2 separate regions of the Homo sapiens genome follow, and region 1 is linked to region 2. The links come from fine-mapping of genetic effects on gene expression. A gene starts in region 2. The other region holds a variant in brackets. All regions are shown on one strand. Distances are from middle to middle.

Region 1 (5,398 bases), 35 kb before region 2:
CTGTGTTTCTTTCCTGCAGTGAGAACAGTAGAATTTTATTCTGGGATACTCTCTGACCAAGCCGACGTCACAGGTGGGCTGCAGTGCCTCTGGCTGCCTTCCCACCTCACTGGCTTGGCATCCTCAGCAAAGTGAAGTCTTCATCTTTGTGATGGGAATGGGACAGTCTCCCTTGTGGACACCAAGAGAGGGAGAGGTGCCCTTGGCTCAGCTGTACAAGACCAATGTGTCATTGGGCTGGTGTTTTCCTCACACCGTGTTCCCTTCCCGGCCTCTTACAGCGAAGATGGCTCACTGGCTGTGCTGGACTCCAGCCTTTCTGAGGTGTTTAGAAGCCGAGGCCACTGTGACCTTGCGAGAGATGCTGCTTGATCCCCCCTCAATCACTTTCTGCTTACCACAATGGGCTGGGACCATCAGGTCGTCTGCCACAAGTGCCCACAGAACCTCTCCCAGCCCCTGGACCTGAAAGCGTTGCTGAGTAGATTGGACTTAAGACAAACAGCAAGTCCCCCATGAGAGTCCACTTCTTTGCCCCTGTTCCCTCAGCTTGTGAGATAACACAGGAGCCTTCTGTAGTATGTTGAAACATTAGATCTGTGCCATTAATTGGCATCGTCTCGCAGCCTGAAGGAGGCTGGATGCTGGGATCCTGTAGTCACAGGAAAGAAAAGCTTTCTTAAAAATGGGCATGCAGGTTCGTCTTGAGTGTGTGTGTGTAGGTTTTGGTAGGGAGGTGGGACGGTGGGGGAGGGATTTAAAAAAAATCTATCCCACATCTCCCCTGAACACCATCTCTCCCTCACTCCCCAAAAAAGTTGACAAAAGGGTTTTATTCTTCCCATGTAGCTGTCTGAGGAATTGACCATATCTGGGTGGGGTATGGAATGTGGGCATCCCTAGGTTCCTGGAAGCAGCTCTTATGCTACTCATAGAGATGGGACTGATTTTATTTTTTATAGCGCTTAATTCACCGTTATGGGAAATGCTTCCAATCACAAAAATTCAGCCCAGCTCGTTTTGAGGAAGAGGCAGGACATGTTATAGTTTTATACAACTCATTTCCATTAAACTGAATCAGAAGTCCTTTTTCTGGATGAATTAAAAATGTGGCCTGTGCCTGTGTAATGTCCACTCCTTTCTGCCAACTCCCTTCCCTCTGCTCCCTGCTGGTGTTGTGTATATGAAAGAGGAGTGTTTTTCTGTCATAGATGCCCTAGAGGAAATTTTGTGGATGTTGGAGAGCTTAAAGGCATTTCAATTGTTAGAAAACTGACACAGACTGTTACAGAGGAATCTTTGCCACTTTTCCCACCCAAAACCAGCCTGGGGCCTGACCTCTTCTGCTCTCAGCCCCTTTCTCTGCATATAGAAAGTCTAAATGCAGTATGTGTAGACTTTTAAAGTTTTAAAATTCAGCCTCAGGAAGAAAATCAGAAATACTGGCTGGTGAAATAAACAGTTTAGGCATCTTGTAAGCCTGCCTTTTTTGAAAAACAACAAAACAAAGTAAGTGTTGGTGAGGATGTGGAAAAATTGGAACCCTTGTGCACTGTTGATGGGAATCAAAAATGGTGCAGTCATTATGGAAAACAATATGACAATTCCTCAAAAAATGAAAAATACAATTACCATGTGATCCGGCAATTCAATTTCTGGATACACATCCAAAAAAATGAAAGTAAGATCTCAAAGAGATATTTGTATACCCATGTTTAGAGCAGCATTATTCACAACGGTCAAAAGGTGGCAGCTCCCCGAGTGTCCATTGACACATGAGTGGATGAATAAAAAGGTGGTATATACATAAAATGGAATATTATTCAGCCTTAAAAGGAAAGGAAATTCTGACATGGGCTACAACATGGATGAACCTTGAGGACACCATGCTGAGTGAAATAGGCTAGCTGTAAAAAGATAAATGCAATTCCACTCATATGAGGAACCTAGAGTAATCAAATTCATAAAGACAGAAAGTAAACAGGTGGTTTCCTGGAGCTGCGAGGAAAGGGGAACGGGGGTTTATTGTTTAATTGGTGCAGAGTTTCAGTTTTGCAGATGAAAAGCATTCTCAGGATTGATTGCACAACAATGCAAATGTACACAGCACTACTGATGTGTATAATTAAAAATGGTTATGATAAATTCTATGTGTATTTCACCACAATTTAAAAAAAAATACATGAAAATTCTTTGGAAAGTATAAGATATTACAGACAAGAGGCCTCAATTATTGAAAAAAAAGATGAAACACTGTCCTGAATTTCCCAAGGGGAACAAAATCTTGAGCATGTCACCTTTGAAAGCATCATCCTGATCCATGTGTACTAAACCAAGTCTAGTGTGATATAAAGTTCCATAGGCTGCATGTGGCATTATGTGCTACCCTTCAAAATTGATTTCAATCCAAGAAAGAGAACAAATCTCGATTCCCAAGTCTTTCCACAACTTGCTTGCTTTTCAAACATAAATCATACATATTAAATCTAACCATTGTCTATAAAAAGCCAACCACACATTTAAAATGTGTTACTGGTAATAGAGCAGCTTGAGGAGGAAGAGGATGAGGGAACTGAAGGCAAGGGGAGGGAGGTCTGTGGAGAGGGTGGGGTGGAACCTGCCAGGCTCTGGGAAGATCAAGGACATTGACAAAAAAGAACAGATTTATCATCACAGAAAAGATGAGGGTAAAAAAACAACAAACAAACAAAACAGGTTACAGGACAGGACATAAGGGCAGACCAACCGTTTAAGGAAAATAAGTCTCATTAGAGGGTTAGAAGCATTAAAAAACTTTTTTCACTTTGTCCTCTGAGGAGAATATTTCTGAAATTTCTGCTTATGGTTATATAAAATCGGGCTGAGGATTTTTTAAAACGTAAAGTTGGTAGCAGACTTTGGATATTTTCATCTATATTTGTTTTTCTGCCTTTAATAAAATAGTGTGTATGTTTCATTTCAGAAGCTATCAAAGACCACATTTTGATTGGTCCACACAATCAAACCAGAAGAATGTTCCAGTTTATTGAATTTGTCTCCTTATTTAAGAAAAAGAAAATTAAGCCAGGAGAAGTTAGCGCTCCATCCACCAGCTGGGTCTTTGATGAAGGGAAGTGAAATGAGGATTCTGCACAGGTGGGCGGTAGCTGGTGGAGTGAGCGCCCTGCAGGTGCAAGTCATGACAACAAATGGGGAGGGATGCTGTGAAGACATTGCCCCATTGTGTTAGGAGAATTCCCAGACACCCCATTCCACTCCTCCAGCTCTCTCCAGGATGGAAG[A/G]ATGGGGAACTATGAGGCGTATGCACCATCCAGGAAGAATCCTAAGTCACATTTACCCTGAAAAGCATGCTTCTGTCCATGAATGTCTTCCACCCTGTGGCTGGGGCTTGGGGGCGGGTAGGGAACAGTGTGGCTGGTGATATTTATGCTTTTCTTCATTTACCAAATATCTTGTAAATGGAACTCTTTCTTTTTTATAAGTCAGTGTTAATGAGTGTAGACCTCAGAGATTTAAAATGAACTATCTGCAAATCTGTGACATTACACTAGAATAAATGTTTTATTACCCCCTCAAATCCAAGTCTCTCTTAAAAGATGTTGAACAGAAAGTACTTAAAGGAATATCTTACATTTTTCATCCATAGTTCAAGTTAAATGATAGGGTAATACTAACACATTAGCTGTCCTTTATACATATTAATCAATAATGCAGTTTTATTATCAATAATTGATTTAAGTCTCAGTAGTGGACAATTTTAAAACAGTCTAAATGTGAAAGTTCAGCATTCTAATCGTTCACAGACAAGCAAGTTAGTGTGAATATATGACACTATGTAAATGACAATATATACATCCAAGTTTAAGTTTACAGTCCAATATAAGGTTACAATTATGTCAAGTCTTAGAAGAATTTTTTTCATAGATACGGACTTCTAACCTATGTATATCACTCTTCTGTTACTATACTTGATAAAATACATTTTGCTAGCTAGAATAGACTTATACTTAGAAAGTTCCATTTACAGTTACACAATTTAATAAAGTTTGATTAAATGAACTGGCAAAATCTGTAATGTTACAAAGTAATAAAATGTAAAACTAAAACTATGGCACATCTGAAAATCAAGAATGACTTGTTTGGCCCACATTACAATTCCTGTATACTAGAATAATAATATATGTTATGTCATAATTTTTCATAAATGATTTTTCAAAATTCAGCAATAATTTTAAATAAATGTGTGCATATATATACGTTTTGCATATAGTTACACAGGTTTCCCAACTGAAATAACTAAGAGAAATAAAAACAGAGAAAAACCTGCCTCTGTGCTGGAAGGAGGGAAGGGTGACCTGTCAATAAGTGTTTGTTGAATGAGTGAATGAATCATGCAAAATTCTAATATCTTATTAAAATAGGAGATAACCTGCCATAGCTAGGACCCAGAAATAAAGAAAACAGAGTTACTTTCATTGTATCTGGGGATCATCCCTTAGCTATTTCTCTCAGTATTTTGAACCTATGTTAATAATGGATATCAAATTTTTCAAACACCAGCAGAGGACAAGGAAGAGCTAACATTCTGACCCCAGTGAAAGTGGACTCTGGTACTTTCATTTAGTCACAGGCTCGCTCAGGGAGTCTTGTTTCTTATTCCTCACTAATAGTCCCAGTCATACAAGCACTTGAGATTATTTTGGCTCCATCCTACTTCCCTGTAGCTACTATGGCCTCCCACTCTCTCATGGACATTCATCGTATTTTGCTCTTGCAACATTCCCTCTCTTGGCCACACTCCAATGCAAATGATTTACTGTAATATGTCTCCACCTTCACACCTTGTGAGAATGAAATGAAAAATCCTACAATTAATTCCTAAGGAAAACAGTACCTTCTAATGCCACCAAAGGTATTGGAAGCAATTATTATTAATTAATAATATAATTATTATTAATTGCAATTGTCGTTGCAAACAGCTTCCAAGAGGGTGGTAGACAGCCAAGACTTTTTATTCAAATAGCTGTTTTCATTCATAAAGCAATCTACTAAATGATAATGTCATGCTTTTTGGCAACATCCGTATTTATGGGTTCTCCTTTTAAGAATTTTCTCTTACATTTGGCATGCTCAGTACAGGACAATACTTCTTAGGAAGTTTGATGGATATTTTTCTTTTGTACTTTTTTAATCAACAGAAACTACACTGATTTTGATTTGCTTAAACAAAAATTTTTTTTCATATTAACAGTCATTTTACCATAGTGTTAGAAGACACCATGGTGGAGGTACTTGCAGTGAGATAACATCCTGCATATTAATCCTTGTGTTTTTCTCTCCTCCACTTCCTGACTCTTCCCTTCATCAGCTGGAGGCAATCACGTTGCCTGGGAGAGAA
Region 2 (5,398 bases):
CTTTCCCACTAAAGATGACCAACAAATTGCAGGTGTCACCACTGCACTGCTCTCAGGCTTGCCCCAAGAGCTCTGGTCCAGCCTGGCCTCCAACTCGTCAGTGTTAATCAAGGTAACACAAGGAAAATATATACAGAGACTAACAACTTATTACAGTACCTCAAAACCTATGCATATTTAGACAACGAGAATCAGTATTCCTTTTAGTCATTCGTTCATTTATATATTCATGAATTTGCTCAACCGATATTTATTAAATACTGGCTATGTGCCAGGTGCATGACATAAACTGTACAGTCATTCAAACCAAGTTTCAAGTCTAAAAGCCCTTTTCCTTTGAAGTTCGTTTCCCCCTGAAGAAAGTTAGATCCTTAAGTTACCAGTCCCAAAGCCTCACCTCCCCCAATCTTAGGCTCAACACTAATTATTGTAAGTAGTTTTCATTTTCTGTCTTTCCTTTTAGACTTAAGGCTTCGCCAAGGTCTCCCCGGCCCCCAGCAAACTACCTGCTATGAAGTAGATGCTCTGTAAATAGTTGTTAAGCACAAATTGCCTTGTGCTATGGAGACTGGGCCTGACATGAGTTGTAAAAGTATCAACAAGTGTATTGACAATGGGTATCGGCAAGTCTTTGCCCTTCAAGCCAGAGAGCTGCTGGGCAGGACAGATTATCTCTGTTTTCTCTGTCACTGATTTACTACCCTTGACTTATGCAATGACATCAGCTAATATGAAGAACACTGCACTGATGACCTCAAAATAACTGAACAAATAGTACTCCCTTTCCCCTCCACCAATGGCATCAACATTCTAAAAAAATTTAAGCATCTTAATAAGCGGTGTCTCTGCAAATATATTTCTTCCCTGAAAACATGATAATATTCTTTGTAATATTAGGCAATTTAGAGTCCCAGTGTAACTGTACATAACTCTACAGAAAAAAGACATATCTAACAAGAACTAGAATTACAAAAACTCATTATCACTGCATTGCACATGCTTCACACAGACATGAATACTATACCCACATATGAGGGTAAAAAGATAAGTGAAAGTAAAAGCTATGAGTGAGTGTGTCAGCCTGATACATTATGGTCCCAAGATGACAGGCTGGCCAAAATACTCCAAAAGAACAAACACACAAAAAGAAGGTAGAGGTAAATTTTTATAATGTTTGTATCCTGTTGGGAAATATAATGTAATGGGCACAGAGTGTGGACTGTAGAGTCAGACAGTCAGGGGTCAAGTCCTCATACCAGCACCTACTACCTATACACTCTGGGGTAGTTTACTTAACCTCTCTGAACCTGTTTCACCATCTGTAGAACATAGTGGTTTCAAGAATTAAATACGATAAATGACTACCATAATTTGGCATCTGAGGCATGTACCAATGACAGCCAGTTCACTCATTCATCCCGTAATTATGTATTGAACGCCTACTATGTCTGTCTTGCTCACCAATGCATTCCCAGCCCCTATCACACTACCCGTCACTGAGGAGACTCTCAAGAACTATTTGTAAGATGAATGTTAAGTCTGTGCTGTTATGGTGCATGCATGCTGGATTGAATCCATCCTCCTTCTGACCATGGGAAGAATGCCAATCAGAGTAGAACAAAGTAGGAAAGTAAAGGAACCTTCACTTTAGTGTTGAACAAGAGTCTATTATATACTAGAAAAAACTTTACAAATTTACAGACTTCTGAAAGTTAAATGATGATTCTATTGTTAGTTGATCAAACATCAGTCATTGAAAATGTAGTAATACGTTACCTCAAAAGAAAAAAAAAAGGTTAGAGTTTTCTTAACAGATAATTCTTTTTAAATCTGTAAGAATCTGTACGTCACTAAAATAAAATCCTGTCTAGATTATTAAAATAAACTTTGTTATCAGTTATATTTTCATGGAAAATATTCCTGTATATATTTTAATTAATAGCCACATAGATATTTGCTTTTTCTGTCAGATCATGTATCCCTTTAAAAACCATTAAAGCTAAAGAAAAAAATCTTAAAATATAATATTTACTCATTGCTAATAAAGGGAACACAAATTTGGAAAGACTCAAGTGAATATTTTTTCTTAATTTAAACTGAGTACTTTGTCTCTATTAAGCTAAGTTAAAAGAATTTGGGAGGACAACCTATGCTACCAAGAGAATAATTTGTTTCTAGGAATCTGAGTTAAAAGAATTTGGGAATGCAATCTCTGCTACCTGGAGAAGAAAGAAATGTCGTGGGTCCCACACCATTCTCAAGACTCTGTTTCAAAGCATTGTTTCAATACGCTGATCCAAACCCTGATAACCTGCCATCTTTTTAATAAAATAATTTATAAATTTAATGAGAATGTTTCACTTTCCATACAAAAAACAGAAAAATGCTTTGAATCAATGCACTTACTGGGATTTGGATTACTGACTGGTGTTCCTATTGATTCTTGTAGGAGTTATTAATCCTGATTGCAACACACAAGTGAACAGACAAGAGAGATAAATTTTGTGGCTTGTGGGAAATGAAGGAAAATGGGCCTCATTTAGTCTGTGAGCATACTAATTGAAATAGATGTATGAAGACTTCACCAGTGTTAAAATAACATTGTTTTTATAAATCATATGATATAAACTATATAACAATAAAATAGAATGTTAAACATGTATTTAATCATCATCATAATTTTGATTCAGAAATCTATAATTTATTAGTTATCTTAATAATGTTTAGAATTTGTTGAACATTTTACCTTATGTGAATTAAGGACAAAATATTAAAGCTATTCAGCACAAAAAAAGGGTCTTTCTGATGTGTATTTTTCATAGAATAGGGTATGAATTTGTTATTTTGTTATTTTGATTAATGTCTAAAACAAAAGATAAACACATTATGATATAACATTACTATTGATTTTAATGGCCCCTTTTGAAATAGAATTATGTCATTGTCAGAAAACATAAGCATTTATGGTATATCATTAATGAGTCACGATTTTAGTGGTTGCCTTGTGAGTAGGTCAAATTTACTAAGCTTAGATTTGTTTTCTCACATATTCTTTCGGAGCTTGTGTAGTTTCCACATTAATTTACCAGAAACAAGATACACATCTCTCTTTGAGGAGTGCCCTAACTTCCCATCATTTTGTCCAATTAAATGAATTGAAGAAATTTAATGTTTCTAAACTAGACCAACAAAGAATAATAGTTGTATGACAAGTAAATAAGCTTTGCTGGGAAGATGTTGCTTAAATGATAAAATGGTTCAGCCAACAAGTGAACCAAAAATTAAATATTAACTAAGGAAAGGTAACCATTTCTGAAGTCATTCCTAGCAGAGGACTCAGATATATATAGGATTGAAGATCTCTCAGTTAAGTCTACATGAAAAGGATGGTTTCTTGGAGCTTCCACAAACTTAAAACCATGAAACATCTATTATTGCTACTATTGTGTGTTTTTCTAGTTAAGTCCCAAGGTGTCAACGACAATGAGGAGGTGAATTTTTTAAAGCATTATTATATTATTAGTAGTATTATTAATATAAGATGTAACATAATCATATTATGTGCTTATTTTAATGAAATTAGCATTGCTTATAGTTATGAAATGGAATTGTTAACCTCTGACTTATTGTATTTAAAGAATGTTTCATAGTATTTCTTATATAAAAACAAAGTAATTTCTTGTTTTCTAGTTTATCACCTTTGTTTTCTTAAGATGAGGATGGCTTAGCTAATGTAAGATGTGTTTTTCTCACTTGCTATTCTGAGTACTGTGATTTTCATTTACTTCTAGCAATACAGGATTACAATTAAGAGGACAAGATCTGAAAATCTCACAAACTATAAAATAATAAAAGAGCAGAATTTTAAGATAAAAGAAACTGGTGGTAGGTAGATTGTTCTTTGGTGAAGGAAGGTAATATATATTGTTACTGAGATTACTATTTATAAAAATTATAACTAAGCCTAAAAGCAAAATACATCAAGTGTAATGATAGAAAATGAAATATTGCTTTTTTCAGATGAAAAGTTCAAATTAGAGTTAGTGTGTATTGTTATTATTAATAGTTATGAAACACGGTTCAGTCTAATTTATTTATTTGTAGAACAGTTTGTCCTCAACTATTATTTTTGCTGACTTATTGCTGTTAATTTGCAGTTACTAAAAATACAGAAATGCATTTAGGACAATGGATATTTAAGAAATTTAAATTTTATCATCAAACGTATCATGGCCAAATTTCTTACATATAGCATAGTATCATTAAACTAGAAATAAGAATACACAATAATATTTAAATGAAGTGATTCATTTCGGATCATTATTGAGTTTCAAGGGAACTTGAGTGTTGTACTTATCAGACTCTACATGTAAGAACATATAGTTAATCTGGTTGTGTGTGTAAAAACATATGGTTAATCTGGTTAAGTCTGGTTAATCATATTAGGTAAGAAAAATGTAAAGAATGTGTAAGACGAAATTTTTGTAAAGTACTCTGCAAAGCACTTTCACATTTCTGCTTATCAACTAAACCTCACAGAGATAGTTTAATAGTTTAGGCTTTAAAATGGATTTTGATTATTCAACAAGTGGCCTTCATAATTTCTTTAAGTGTTTTTCTTTAAGTATATACTTTCTTTAAATATTTTTTAAAATTTCCTTTTCTCTAGTAAAGCCAGACCATCCATGCTACCTCTCTAGTGGCACTCTGAAATAAAAAGAAAATAGTTTTCTCTGTTATAATTGTATTTGTAATAAGCAGATGAATCACATTTCTTAAAATTTGTTTTAGAGAGGGTAAGCTCTGACTAGGACCATGACTTCAATGTGAAATATGTATATATCCTCCGAATCTTTACATATTAAGAATGTATATAGTCAACTGGTTAAACAGGAAAATCTGGAACCAGCCTGGCTGGGTTTTAATCTTAGCACCATCCTACTAAATGTTAAATAATATTATAATCTAATGAATAAATGACAATGCAATTCCAAATAGAGTTCATCTGATGACTTCTAGACTCACAAAATTGCAAGAGAGCTCAGTTGTTGCTCAGTTGTTCCAAATCATGTCGTTTGTTAATTTGTAATTAAGCTCCAAAGGATGTATAGCTACTGACAAAAAAAAAAATGAGAATGTAGTTAATCCAAATCAAAACTTTCCTATTGCAATGCGTATTTTCTGCTTCATTATCCTTTAATATAATATTTTAAGTTAGCAAGTAATTTTAATTACAATGCACAAGCCTTGAGAATTATTTTAAATATAAGAAAATCATAATGTTTGATAAAGAAATCATGTAAGAAATTTCAAGATAATGGTTTAACAAATAATTTTGTTGATAGAAGATAAGACTAAAAGTGAAATTCGAAGTGGAGAGGACACTTAAACTGTAGTA

What was found. PIP is the estimated chance that this variant, and not a neighbour inherited with it, causes the effect.
Region 1: its variant is the best candidate, but not a certain one, in a credible set for the expression of FGB in lung (TOPMed, PIP 0.60).

Annotation. Positions count from the first base shown.
Region 1 is chr4:154,524,325-154,529,722 of GRCh38, forward strand. It overlaps the pseudogene WDR77P1. Among named protein-coding and RNA genes, the nearest start is that of PLRG1, 23 kb to the right of the region's middle. The variant A/G (reference allele first, on the strand shown) is at 3,282.
Region 2 is chr4:154,559,642-154,565,039 of GRCh38, forward strand. It overlaps FGB (fibrinogen beta chain), which reads left to right and starts at 3,370. Exons shown (of 8, transcript NM_005141.5): 1 at 3,370-3,491. The coding sequence starts at 3,378.